Homo sapiens: one gene and its partners. The protein of the gene in region 3 purifies or fractionates together with the protein of the main gene of each other region. This does not show direct contact. Each region holds a gene or a part of one and is shown on either strand. Other genes may lie near its edges. The genes, in order: ABCD1, SNX14 and IQCF1.

Region 1 (3,550 bases), on a different chromosome or scaffold from region 3:
CTGAAAGCTCCTCGGTGGCCTCTGGGCTAAGTCCTGTCTCTGTAGTGTGGCCTCCAAGGCCCGCCGGCCGCAGCCCTCCCTTCCCCTGCCCTCCCTTCCCCTGCATGCAGCACGAACACCCTGCGCTGTGCTCCCAGTTCCCCCCAGGCCCCTGCACAAGTGGCCGCCTCTCCCTAGAAGGGCCAGCAGCACCCTGTGTGGCAGCTTAGACATCCCTTCTCTTGCCTTCGTGCTCCTCCCACAGGGACCAGCATGATCCCCTCCCCTAGTCCTATTTGGGCTCAGCCAGTATTTCTGTGCAATGTTGTTGCAGGTTCCGCCCCGCCACCGTCACAGGAATCCTAAGAGCATTGGCGTGAGGCTCGGCGGAGGGCATGCTGGACCATGTCTTCTGGTGACTTTCCCCCTCGGAGGGGCTTGGGGGTCAGGCCCACTCCTTTCCCAAACTCACTCTTTCCCCCACAGGCAACCCACTCCCTCTCCTCCATCTCTCCTCGAGACCCACAGCAGACACCACCAGGCTCTGAGGCAGGGAGGAAGGACTGCATTTGCCAGTGGAGGCTTTTACTGGGGGGACTGGGGGTGGTGCCCGGCCCGAGGGCTGAGGGCCCGGGAAAGGCACACGGTGGCGGTGGGGTCTCTCTCGGGCAGGCGCTGGCTCCGCAGACAGCTCCCCCTGGTGACCCCTCTTTGGCACTGAGCTGGGAACATGGTGTCCGCACTCCTGGCTGGCAAGCAGAGGCCCGTGTGCCCCGGTGGCGGCTGGCAGTGTAGGCTGGCGGGGTGACGGCCGCAGGGGCTGGGTTTGGCACCGGTGGGAGCCGGGGCCCCACGGGACTCAGAGGCTGGGCCGCCCCCGCTGCTGGCACGGTAGTCACATTGGCCACGGAGATGGCTACGAATAGGGAATCCAATAAATTAGGCTGTAGAAAGAGGTGGTGAGGGGCCGAGGGGGCGGGGCCTGCATTCTCGCTTGGCAGGCAGTGCTGTGCGTCCCTCTCCCCTCTCCCGTGGGATCTTTGGGGCTCTTGTGGGGGAGAGGATGCAGGTGAGGCGCTCTGTGTGACTGTGGGTCCCACTGGGCGGCTTTTATGGCATCCCACGGAACGGGAGCCTTGGCTGACCACCCTCAGGGGATGGACCATGGGGTCTTTGAGAGACTGACGAGGAGGGAATCATGGGGACTCGAGTCTCTGGAGGGAGGCCACCTGCAGTGCCAGGGGCTGTGGCCTGACGGGCTCCTGGGGCTCGGCTGCGCTGCTGTGTGGCCAGCACTGGGCCCCTTGTACCCCAGCTTCCTCCACGGAGCAAAGTAGAGGACTCACTGCCCTGGACAGGGCCCAGTCACTGTGGAACAGCGCCCCCAGGGAGTGGGAGGGACAGGGCGAGGGTTACGCAGGGCGCCACCCTCCACATCTACTTTCCCGAGGGCGGGAAGGGTTTTCTAGGAGGAGGGGCCAGGCATGCAGGGGCGGGGTGCGTGCATGGGTGGGTGCTGCTGTCTCCTTCATGTGATCCGAGCTTGGGGGCGGGGCAGGGGCCGGGGACGGTTGTGTCAGGTGGAGGCACCCTGGAGGCCACCAGGGCCTTGCGGGCTAGGTGCCGGCACATGCGCTGGGGCCACGGCCTCGCCCAGGATCTGGCAGAGCTCCTGGAGGCGCCGCTGCATCTTGGGAATGCCCGCCAGCTGCTGCTCCAGCCGCTGCTTCTCCTCCGTCAGGCTCAGGCGGGCAGCTGAGTCCAGCTTCTCGAACTTCCAGCCGCCCTCCCCATCGAACTGTAGCAAGTGTGTGTGGTATTTCCTGGCCAGGAGAGGGACAGGGTCAGGGGCACGGCACGGGGGCTGCTGATGACAGCCGCCTGCTGCTGCCGGGCCCGCCAGGCCACCTCCTCCCCTCAGGCAGCCACTCCCACCGACCCCAGGCAGGGAGACAGGGCACCTACCACAGGGAGGGCCGGTGGGTGATGGAGAGCAGGGCAATGCCCGCGTCCTTGGCCGCCTGGAAGATCTTGCCTTCCACGTCGATGCTCACGGCGCTGGTGCATTCATCCAGGAGGGCGTACTTGGGCCTGGGGGTCCGGGCCGAGAGGAGAGTCTGTGCACCCTCCAGGGCCCAACACCCCAGCCCGGCTCAGGCTCCACTGAGCCCAGGCCTCCCCACAGCTGCTACTTCCCCTTCCAGGGGACCCCAGGGAGCCTGCCGGCCCGGAGTGCTCACCTGTGGTAGAACATGCGGGCCATGCCGATTCTCTGCTTCTCGCCACCCGACAGGACGTCCTTCCAGTCACACATAGCCTCCCAACCTAGGCGGGGGCAATGGTCTTGGCTCAGTTCCACCAGCACCCAGACCCGGGGGCCAGCCGGGGAGCTGGGGGAGCTGCGGGAATGAGCTAGCTGTGACGACAGGGCCCCTGTGCCTCTGCGTCCTTGTCTGTCTGACAGGCATTAATCATGGAGGAGTGGGGACTGGAATCGTGCCTTCCCCCAGAAGAGATACGGTGGAGTCCAAGCCCCAACACTTCAGTGTGACCTTATTTGGAGACAGGGCCTTCGCAGAGGTGATCACACTAAGATGAGGTCATCAGAGTGGACCCTAATTCAATATGACTGTGTCCTCATAAAAAGGGGGTGTGTGGGCAGAAGACATGCACAGGGGAACATGAGGTGAAGATATACAGGGAGAAGTGGACCATCTGCGAGCCGAGGACAGAGGCCTGGAACACATCCTTCTGTCATGGCACCCGGAAGGAGCCCACCCTGCTGGCACCTGGATCTCGGACTGCTGGATCTAGGAGACAATCCATCCCTGCGGTTTATGGCAGCCCCAGGGCACCCATACAGTTCCTTGGCACAGAGCTCCAGAGCGGCCTGAGTGCTCTCCCCAGACCGGGGGCTTGTCACCCACAGGGGTTGGGCCTCCTGTCACTGCCCCGTGTCAGCACTTTGGCAAGGCTCGAGTGGGCTGCTTGAACGAGCAGGTGAGCCGGCTGCTCCATTAGGTCGGGGCGCTGCGGCAGAAGCGGCCCTTCCTGTCTTCTCGCCCATGCTGCCTTCCCCAGCGGCCCAGGGCTAGAAGTGGCAACAGGGCATATGGCCACCCAGAGTAGAGATTACGCTTCCCAGGTGGCCTTGTGATGAGGTGTGAGCATGAGACTAAGTTGTGGCCAATGAGATATAACTGTAAGTATTCAATATGGCGGCTTCTGGAACCTTCCTTAAAAGAAGGCACATACCTTTTGCCCCTTCCCTTCTACTTCCTCCATCCTACAGCCTGGGACATGATGTGAGGGCTGCAGCAGCCCTCCTGGATCATGAGGTGACTTTGGGAACGGAGGCCAAACACAGCAGAGTGACCTGGTAGAAAATCCTCGAGCCCTGGGGCCTTCACAGAGCAGGGCCAGCCCTGGCAACCGTGGCCTGGCTCTCTTGGGACCTAACAGCTCAGTAGGATAAACTCACAGATGATCTTAGCCACTATTGCGGGGAGGCCCGTTCTGTTCCTCGCAGCTCAACTCCATCCTAATGGCTCATGCTGGCCGGCCACAGGCC
Region 2 (3,750 bases), on a different chromosome or scaffold from region 3:
GCAGCAAAGGAGAAAAAGAAAGGCAAAGAATATACAGGACAAATATAAAACAAACACCAAGATGTAAGGCCTAACAATAAACACATAATAAATATATCACGTGTAAATGTACTACAGATACCAATTAAAAAGCAAAGATTACTAAATTAGGTTTTTTTAAAGTGAGAGAAACTATGTGCTGCTTACTAGAAATACATTAAACATTTCAATCAGATAGAAAAAGATATACAAATGAACACTCAAATATAAAGAAAGATGATGTGGCTATATTAACATCAGACAAAGCAGACTTCAAGACTAAAAATTACCAAAGATAAAAGAGGAGCATTTTATAATGATAAAAGAATAAATTCATTAAGAAGATATAACAATCTTAAATGTGTCTGCACCTAATAATGAAGTTTAAAAGATATATGCATTCATACAATGGAATACCACTCAGCAAAGAACAAACTACATATTTATTTATTTATTTTTGAGACAGAGTCTCACTCTGTCACCCAGGCTGGAGTGCAGTGGCATGATCTCGGCTCACTGCAACCTCCACCTCTCAAGTTCAAACAATTCTCCTGCCTCAGCCTCCTGAGTAGCTGCGATTACAGGCATGAGCCAACACGCCCAGCTAATTTTTGTATTTTTGTCGAGACAGGGTTTCACTATGTTGCCCAGGTTGGTCTCGAACTCCTGACTTCAAGTGATCCACCTGCCTCGGCCTCCCGAAGTGCTGGGATTGTAAGCATGAGCCACTGCGCCTTGCCCAAACTACTTATTTAGACAAAAACATACATGAACTTTAAAAAGCATTATCCTGAGTGAAGGAAGCTAGGCACAAAGGAGTACATATTATGTGATTCAATTTATATAAAAAAAATTATACAGGCAAAACTAATCTGTGCTGAGAGAAATGAGACCAGTGATTGCTTTGGCAGGAGTAGGGGAAAGAGTGGATCTCTTGGGAAGGATCCTAAGGGAATTTTCTGGGCTGATGGAAATAAATGTTCTAGATCTTGATAAAGATGCAGGTTACGTGGATGTACACACATGCAAAACTGATCAAACTATACATTTAAATTCCATGTGTTTCACTATATAAATTATACCTCATTTTTAAAGTTATATTTTAAAAAGAAATTAAATGCATTAAAAACAATATTTTCAGTCTATAAAGTTTCTTATAAATCCAATAATCTATAATGCTACAGAGCTTATAATTAAAATGAGGTATTCTTATATTTGATAATTTAGTCAAAACAATCCTTTACAAAAACTGTGAAAAAGTGATATTGACATGGGCTACAGTTTGGGTTTTTAATATATTTTCATTATACTGTACTTTTAGTATTTTTTTTTTCTGCTACTAGGATTTGAATGAAGTTAGTGACAGATTATTTCCCAATCTGGAAAGAAGTGGGCACTTGAGAGAAACCCACATATGCTCTTAGAAAATCAAGTATATGGCCGGGCGCGGTGGCTCACGCCTGTAACCCCAGCACTTTGGGAGGCCGAGGTGGGTGGATCACCTGAGGTCGGGAATTCAAGACCAGCCTGACCAACATGGAGAAACCCCATCTCTACTAAAAATACAAAATTAGCTGGGGTGCTGGCACATGCCTGTAATCCCAGCTACTTGGGAGACTGAGGCAGGAGAATCGCTTGAACCCAGGAGGCGGAGGTTGCAGTGAGCCAAGATCACACCATTGCACTCCAGCCTGGGCAACGAGAGTGAAATTCCGCCTCAAACAAAAAAAAAAAAAAAAAAAGGAAATCGAGTATATGAAATTTAGTACAATGATAGATGGGTACCACAACATCAGATCTGATTTAAAATATTCAAATACATTAAAAGGTTTAAAAATTACTTTCGTAAAATACACAGGTAAGCCTCACCCACAGTCAAACAAAACTGCAACACGTGCACTGCGCCTTCTTGTTTCAGAAAGTTCATAAAACGAAATAAAAGATCTTGTTGCTCTCTGATTTGCTTCAATTCTAACTTCAGCACCTTGATATAAGAGAAAGATTAAGTTTAAGCTATATAAATGAGTTCTAAAATTGTTTATATCAAAAAGGTGTTATTGCTGAAAATTCTTACAGATGGCTTTTTATTTCTAGGTTCTGCAAATTTCTGCAAGAATGGAACCAAAGGAGAAGCCGGTTCAGTTGCTTTTTCAGGCTTTGAAAGAAAGAGAATTATTAACTCAGTAAAATTCCCACTTGATTTGACATACAAAATCAAAATTCAATGCAATCTGAAGTGTTTTCTAATATATTCAATACTCACTGGACTGTCATCTATGAAGATGATAAGCAAATGATTCACAGTATCCTAGTGGAAAATAATAAACATAAGTCAAAATAATTCCACTACTGTATTCTCCCCAGAATTCTCATAACTTGTATCATATTATGTAAGTTTCTAGAAAAATGAAAAAATAAATGGAGCAGTAGCAAAAAATCTGCACATATGTATTACAGCAGGAGTTTTTTTACATCTACAAAACAGGTTCTTAACCTTTGTGAAAATGGGCAAATAAAAGCTATTCTGATTTTGGCATTTAAAATATTTCTAAATCATTCTTGTTTCTTCAAAATCTCACTGGATCAAAGGTAGAAGCATCCAAAGTGTCCATCAATGGATGAACAGATAAGCAAAACATGTTATACACATACAATGAAATATTACTCAGCCTTGAAAAGGAAGGAAATTCTGACACATGCTACAACATGGATGAACCTTGAAGACACTATGCTAAGTGAAATAAGCCAGTCACAAAAAGACTAATACTTATGATTCCACTTATATGTGGTACCCAGAGTAGTCAAATTCATGGAGACAGAAAGCAGAATGGTGGTTGCCAGGGGGGGCTGGAGGGAGGAAGGAATGAGGAGTTATTGTTAACAGATGCAGAGTTTCAATTTCATAAGATGAAGAGTTCTGGAGATGGGGAATGGGGATGGTTGCACAACAATATGAATGTTTTCAGTATCACTGACTATATACATAAAAATGTTTAAGATACTAAATGTTATATTAAGTGTAATTTGTAACAATTTAAAAAAAAATCTTAAGTCTTACTGGATCAGCTAGGAAATCCAAAGAAGGAAGGAACACAGAGCCAGACAGAATCTCTCTTATAAGTAAGGTCAGAGATCTGGAAAAAGAAATAATAATAATTGTTTATATTTAGTGATTTATATTAGTTCTTAACTTTCAAGTGCATGTGAATTACGTAAGGATCTTGTTAAAATGGAGACTATAATTCAGTAGGTCTTGGTTAGGCCCTAAAAGTCTGCATTTCTAACAAACTCTCAACCAATGTTCATGCTACTGGTTTGCAGAACACACGTTGAATAGCAAAGAGTTAGAGTTCTTACTTGGCTAAAATAGAATATTACTTAAGAGAAGAAAAAGTATTCCCTTAACAGGAGGAACTTGGGGGACATTAGGAAAAACTCTCTATCGGCCGGGTGGGGTGGCTCACGCCTGTAATCTCAGAACTTTGGGTGGCCGAGGCAGGGGGATCACAAGGTCAGGAGTTCAAGACCAGCCTGGCCAACATGATGAAACCCCGTCTCTACTAAAAATACAAAAATTAGCTGGGCATGATGGTGCATGCCTGTAATCCCAGCTAATAGGGAGGCTGATGCAGGAGAATCGCTTGAATCCGGCAGGCAGAGGTTGCAGTGAGCCGAGATCACACCACTGAACTCTAGCCTGGGCAACAGAGCAAGACTCTGTCTCAAAAATAA
Region 3 (3,750 bases):
CTATATTCTGAAGTCTGGCACCCTGTGGGTCGGCCCCCGAGGGTCATCCAGCTTCCATCTCCCAATACTAAGTTCACTTCATGTCTCTCACGACAGGGAGGAAACTTAGCATTCCTTGGAGACCTGAACGGATGCAGTGAGCTTAAGAATTTTCAAGAGCTTATCAATCAGTCAGCCCTTGTTCATCCCCGAGGGGATGTGTGGTGGTATTGTGGTGGACCTTTACTGGACGCTCTGATGAATATCTGAAGTGGCACTTGTGTTTTAGTCCAATTGGCTATCCCTTTCACCCTGGCATTTCATCAACCAGAGGAAGGAAAAATAAGACATCGTAAAGTGAGAGAAGCCCCTTATGGGTCTTTTGACTCTCACATCTATTTAAATGCAATTGGAGTCTAGCAGGGAATACCAGATCAATTTAAAGCCTAAAATCAAATAGCTGCAGGATTTGAGTCAATATTTTGTTGAGAGACAATTAATAAAAATATAGATTGAATAAACTACATATGCTACAACCAACAGCGATTTATTAACTACACTAGAGATGGTGTTAAAGGAATAGCTGAGCAATTAGGGGCTACTAGCCGGATGGCTTGGGAAAATAGGATAGGCTTAGACATGATAATAGCAGAAAGAGGAGGAGTTTGCCTCATGATTAAAACTCAATGTTGTACCTTCATCCCAAACAACACTGCCCCTGATGGAAGTATAACAAAGGCATTGCAAGGTCTGACTGCCCTGTCCAATGAGTTAGCCAACAACTCAGGGTTAAATGAGCCCTTTACAGGATGGCTAGAAAAGTGGTTCAGTAAATGGAAAAGAATTATAGCCTCAATTCTCACTTCCCTGGCAGCCGCAATGGGTGTATTTATTCTTGTTGGGTGCTGTGTCACACCATGCGTCCGTGGGTTGGTGCAAAGAGGCTCATAAAAACAGCACTTACTAAAACCTCCCTTAACTATTCTCCACCTTATCCAGAGAAGCTTCTTCTTTTGGAAAATCAAGCAGAACATCTAAGCCAAGACATGTTAAAGAAGTTTAAAGAGAAAGAGCTGTAAGGAAATGCAAGAGGAGAAGTTGTTAGGTATGAGTTCTAAATTTCTCTTCAAAGAATCAGTATGTCAATATGTTCAATTCTTTGCCTTCTACTTTTAAACTTAACTTCCTTGTAAAGCAACCTTTTTCAATTACCTGCTCCGCCCTGACTCATTCTGATTACCTACTCCCCCCTGACTCATTCCGATTACCGGCTCCACCCTGACTCATTCCAATTACCTGCTCAGTCTCCACCCTGACTCATTCCGATTTCCTGCTCCGCGGTAACCATTTTTCCCACCAAACCACTCACCCCATCACTCTCTTTAAATTAGCCAATCAGAATTAGTTTAGCCTGTGTGGTCTAACCCTAGCCAATAGGGGAATGACACAGCAGCAGGGGCCACGTGCATCAGGGATAAGAACCCCTTCCCCTCCCTTGTCCAAGTGTGCACTCACCATTGCTCCATCTGTAAGGGCGCACCCTTCTATAGAAGTACCTTGCCTTGCTGAGAATTAAAAAGAAAATTTTATATTTGAGTGCTATTTCTTTTGCGGCACAGAAACTTCACTTATAACAGCACCATGCAAAAGACACTAGCTACTAGCACTAGGACATGGGATCAATGACATCCAAGTCAGGGCTCCTCCTACCTCTGCCTTTGACTCTGCTCCTAAGGACAAATGGGTTGGCATCTCCTTCTGCTGAGGCTCATCTTCTTTTGAGGGTTCCTTCGTCTTTTGGGGCTGCTTCTCCTCCTGCAATCAGCATTAGGGGAAAGGCAAGAGTGAGGCTGCGGTCCCTCCCTCTCCATTCAATATGGCACACATCCCCAGCTTCCAGGGCTTCTTAGAGTCTTCAGTGTCAGGGGGTCCCTTCACCCTGAGAGATCTATGGGGACATCCCTAACAAGCCTGGTGTGTCTGGCTTTCTCTTACCATTGGTCACATATGGATTGATTGTAGATGGTTCAAATCCCCTCACATCTGTGTTCATCCAGCCATAGCATAGGCAGGAAGGGTGGAGGAAGAAAGGCCTGTGATGTCATAAGGGCACCTGTGACTCAGGCACCAGATGGCTCCTAACAAGTGAGCCCCCTCCAAGGGAAAGACAAAAGCGCTGCCCATTCTTTTCTGCCAGAAATGGCCAAAGCCCTGACTTCAAAGGCAAGATGCCAGAAATACTGGCCCATTGCTGTAAGGTTTATAAAAAGCCAGTCATTTCTAATAACATTTAATTGAAAAAACTTGGCCAGGCGCAGTGGCTCAGGCCTGTAATCCCAGCACTTTGGGAGGCCGAGGCAGGCAGATCAACTGAGGTCAGGAGTTCGAGACCAGCCTGGCCAACATGGCAAAACCTTGTCCCTACTAAAATTACAAAAATTAGCTGGGTGTGGTGGCTGTCACCTGTAATCCCAGCTACTCAGGAGGCTGAGACAGGAGAATCGCTTGCACCCAGGAGGTGGAGTTTGCAGTGAGCCAGGATCATGCCACTGCACTCCAGGCTGGGCAAGAGAGCAAGACTCCATCTCAAAAAAAAAAAAAAAAGAAAAGAAAAAACTTATATAGCCAACTTAAATAATCAATAGGGGATTAATTTAATGATGCATAGTTCATTCATACTATAAAATACTACATAACTATTAAAAATAAGAATTTGATCTATATTACTAATGAGGAAATATATAAAGATGTATTTATAAGTAAAAAACTAAAGTTCCTTTTGATCCCACTATGCAAACAAAACTAGGAACATAATTATACACATAAAATTGAATAATTTATGCCAGAAGTTATTACATGATACACATTATATGTTGTAAATGAATATAAAGAAGAAAAAAGGTATATATACCAAACTATTACCAATGATTACCTTTGGAGAGGAGAGTTAAATTGCTGACTCATGCCTAACACAGTCCCCAAGGAACCCCATGAGGGCCTGAGGACCAGCCTGGACTCCATCTGAGGCTCAAATGGGTCCAAGTGCTCTCCTGTCTTCCTCTGTCCCTGGGGTCTCAAGGCCACAATCAGATGGATGAAGGTGGCCACTGCACAAGCATGGCCCCTTTCTGCCTGATCTCGGCCTCTGAAGACCCAGCTGGACAGGGTAAGGCCATGAGAGGCACAGCCCCTGGGGTCACTGAGAAGTGCACTTGAAATGTATAGGGTGAGTATGGGAGAGGCCAATGTGGATCTGTAGGGGGAATGTAGGGAAGAGGAGGAGGCCATTTGAGGCTGGGATGTGAAGTTAATGGGATGAGGGGGTGGAGAATATGGGAATACATTGAAAGATGTGGGAAGTTGTGGGTGTGATATAGTTTGGCTCTGTGTCCCCACCCAAATCTCATCTTGAATTTTAACTCCCGCAATTCCCATGTGTTGTGGAAGGAACCTGGTGGGAGGTGACTGAATTATGGGGGCAGGTCTTTCCTGTGCTGTTCTCATGATAGTGAATGAATCTCAAGAGATTTGATGGTTTTAAAAATGGGAGTTTGGGCTGGGTGCAGTGGCTCATGCCTGTAATCCTAGAACTTTGGGAGGCTGAGGCGGGAGGATCATGAGGTCAGGAGATCAAGACCATCCTGGCTAACACGGTGAAACCCCGTCTCTACTAAAAATACAAAAAATTAGCCAAGTGTGGTGGTTGACACCTGTAGTCCCAGTTACTGGGGAGGCTGAGGCAGCAGAATGGCATGAACCTGGGAGGCAGAG

What was found.
Region 1: the proteins of IQCF1 (region 3) and ABCD1 purify together in Homo sapiens (affinity purification with mass spectrometry; 2 studies listed by BioGRID and IntAct, with this or other methods). This does not show direct contact.
Region 2: the proteins of IQCF1 (region 3) and SNX14 purify together in Homo sapiens (affinity purification with mass spectrometry; 2 studies listed by BioGRID and IntAct, with this or other methods). This does not show direct contact.

Annotation. Positions count from the first base shown.
Region 1 is NC_000023.11:153,741,741-153,745,290, reverse strand, and holds the end of ABCD1 (ATP-binding cassette sub-family D member 1), read right to left. Parts: intron 2,305-3,550; coding exon 2,220-2,304; intron 2,071-2,219; coding exon 1,945-2,070; intron 1,803-1,944; coding exon 1,556-1,802; 3' UTR 536-1,555; downstream 1-535. UniProt on the Homo sapiens protein: ATP-dependent transporter of the ATP-binding cassette (ABC) family involved in the transport of very long chain fatty acid (VLCFA)-CoA from the cytosol to the peroxisome lumen.
Region 2 is NC_000006.12:85,545,225-85,548,974, forward strand, and holds part of SNX14 (sorting nexin-14), read right to left. Parts: intron 3,153-3,750; coding exon 3,077-3,152; intron 2,327-3,076; coding exon 2,282-2,326; intron 2,174-2,281; coding exon 2,093-2,173; intron 2,003-2,092; coding exon 1,888-2,002; exon of another isoform or gene 1,860-1,887; intron 1-1,859. UniProt on the Homo sapiens protein: Plays a role in maintaining normal neuronal excitability and synaptic transmission. May be involved in several stages of intracellular trafficking. Required for autophagosome clearance, possibly by mediating the fusion of lysosomes with autophagosomes.
Region 3 is NC_000003.12:51,901,296-51,905,045, forward strand, and holds the start of IQCF1 (IQ domain-containing protein F1), read right to left. Parts: upstream 2,059-3,750; 5' UTR 1,978-2,058; coding exon 1,975-1,977; intron 1,795-1,974; coding exon 1,690-1,794; intron 1,530-1,689; exon of another isoform or gene 1,498-1,529; coding exon of another isoform or gene 1,495-1,497; intron 1-1,494. UniProt on the Homo sapiens protein: Involved in sperm capacitation and acrosome reaction.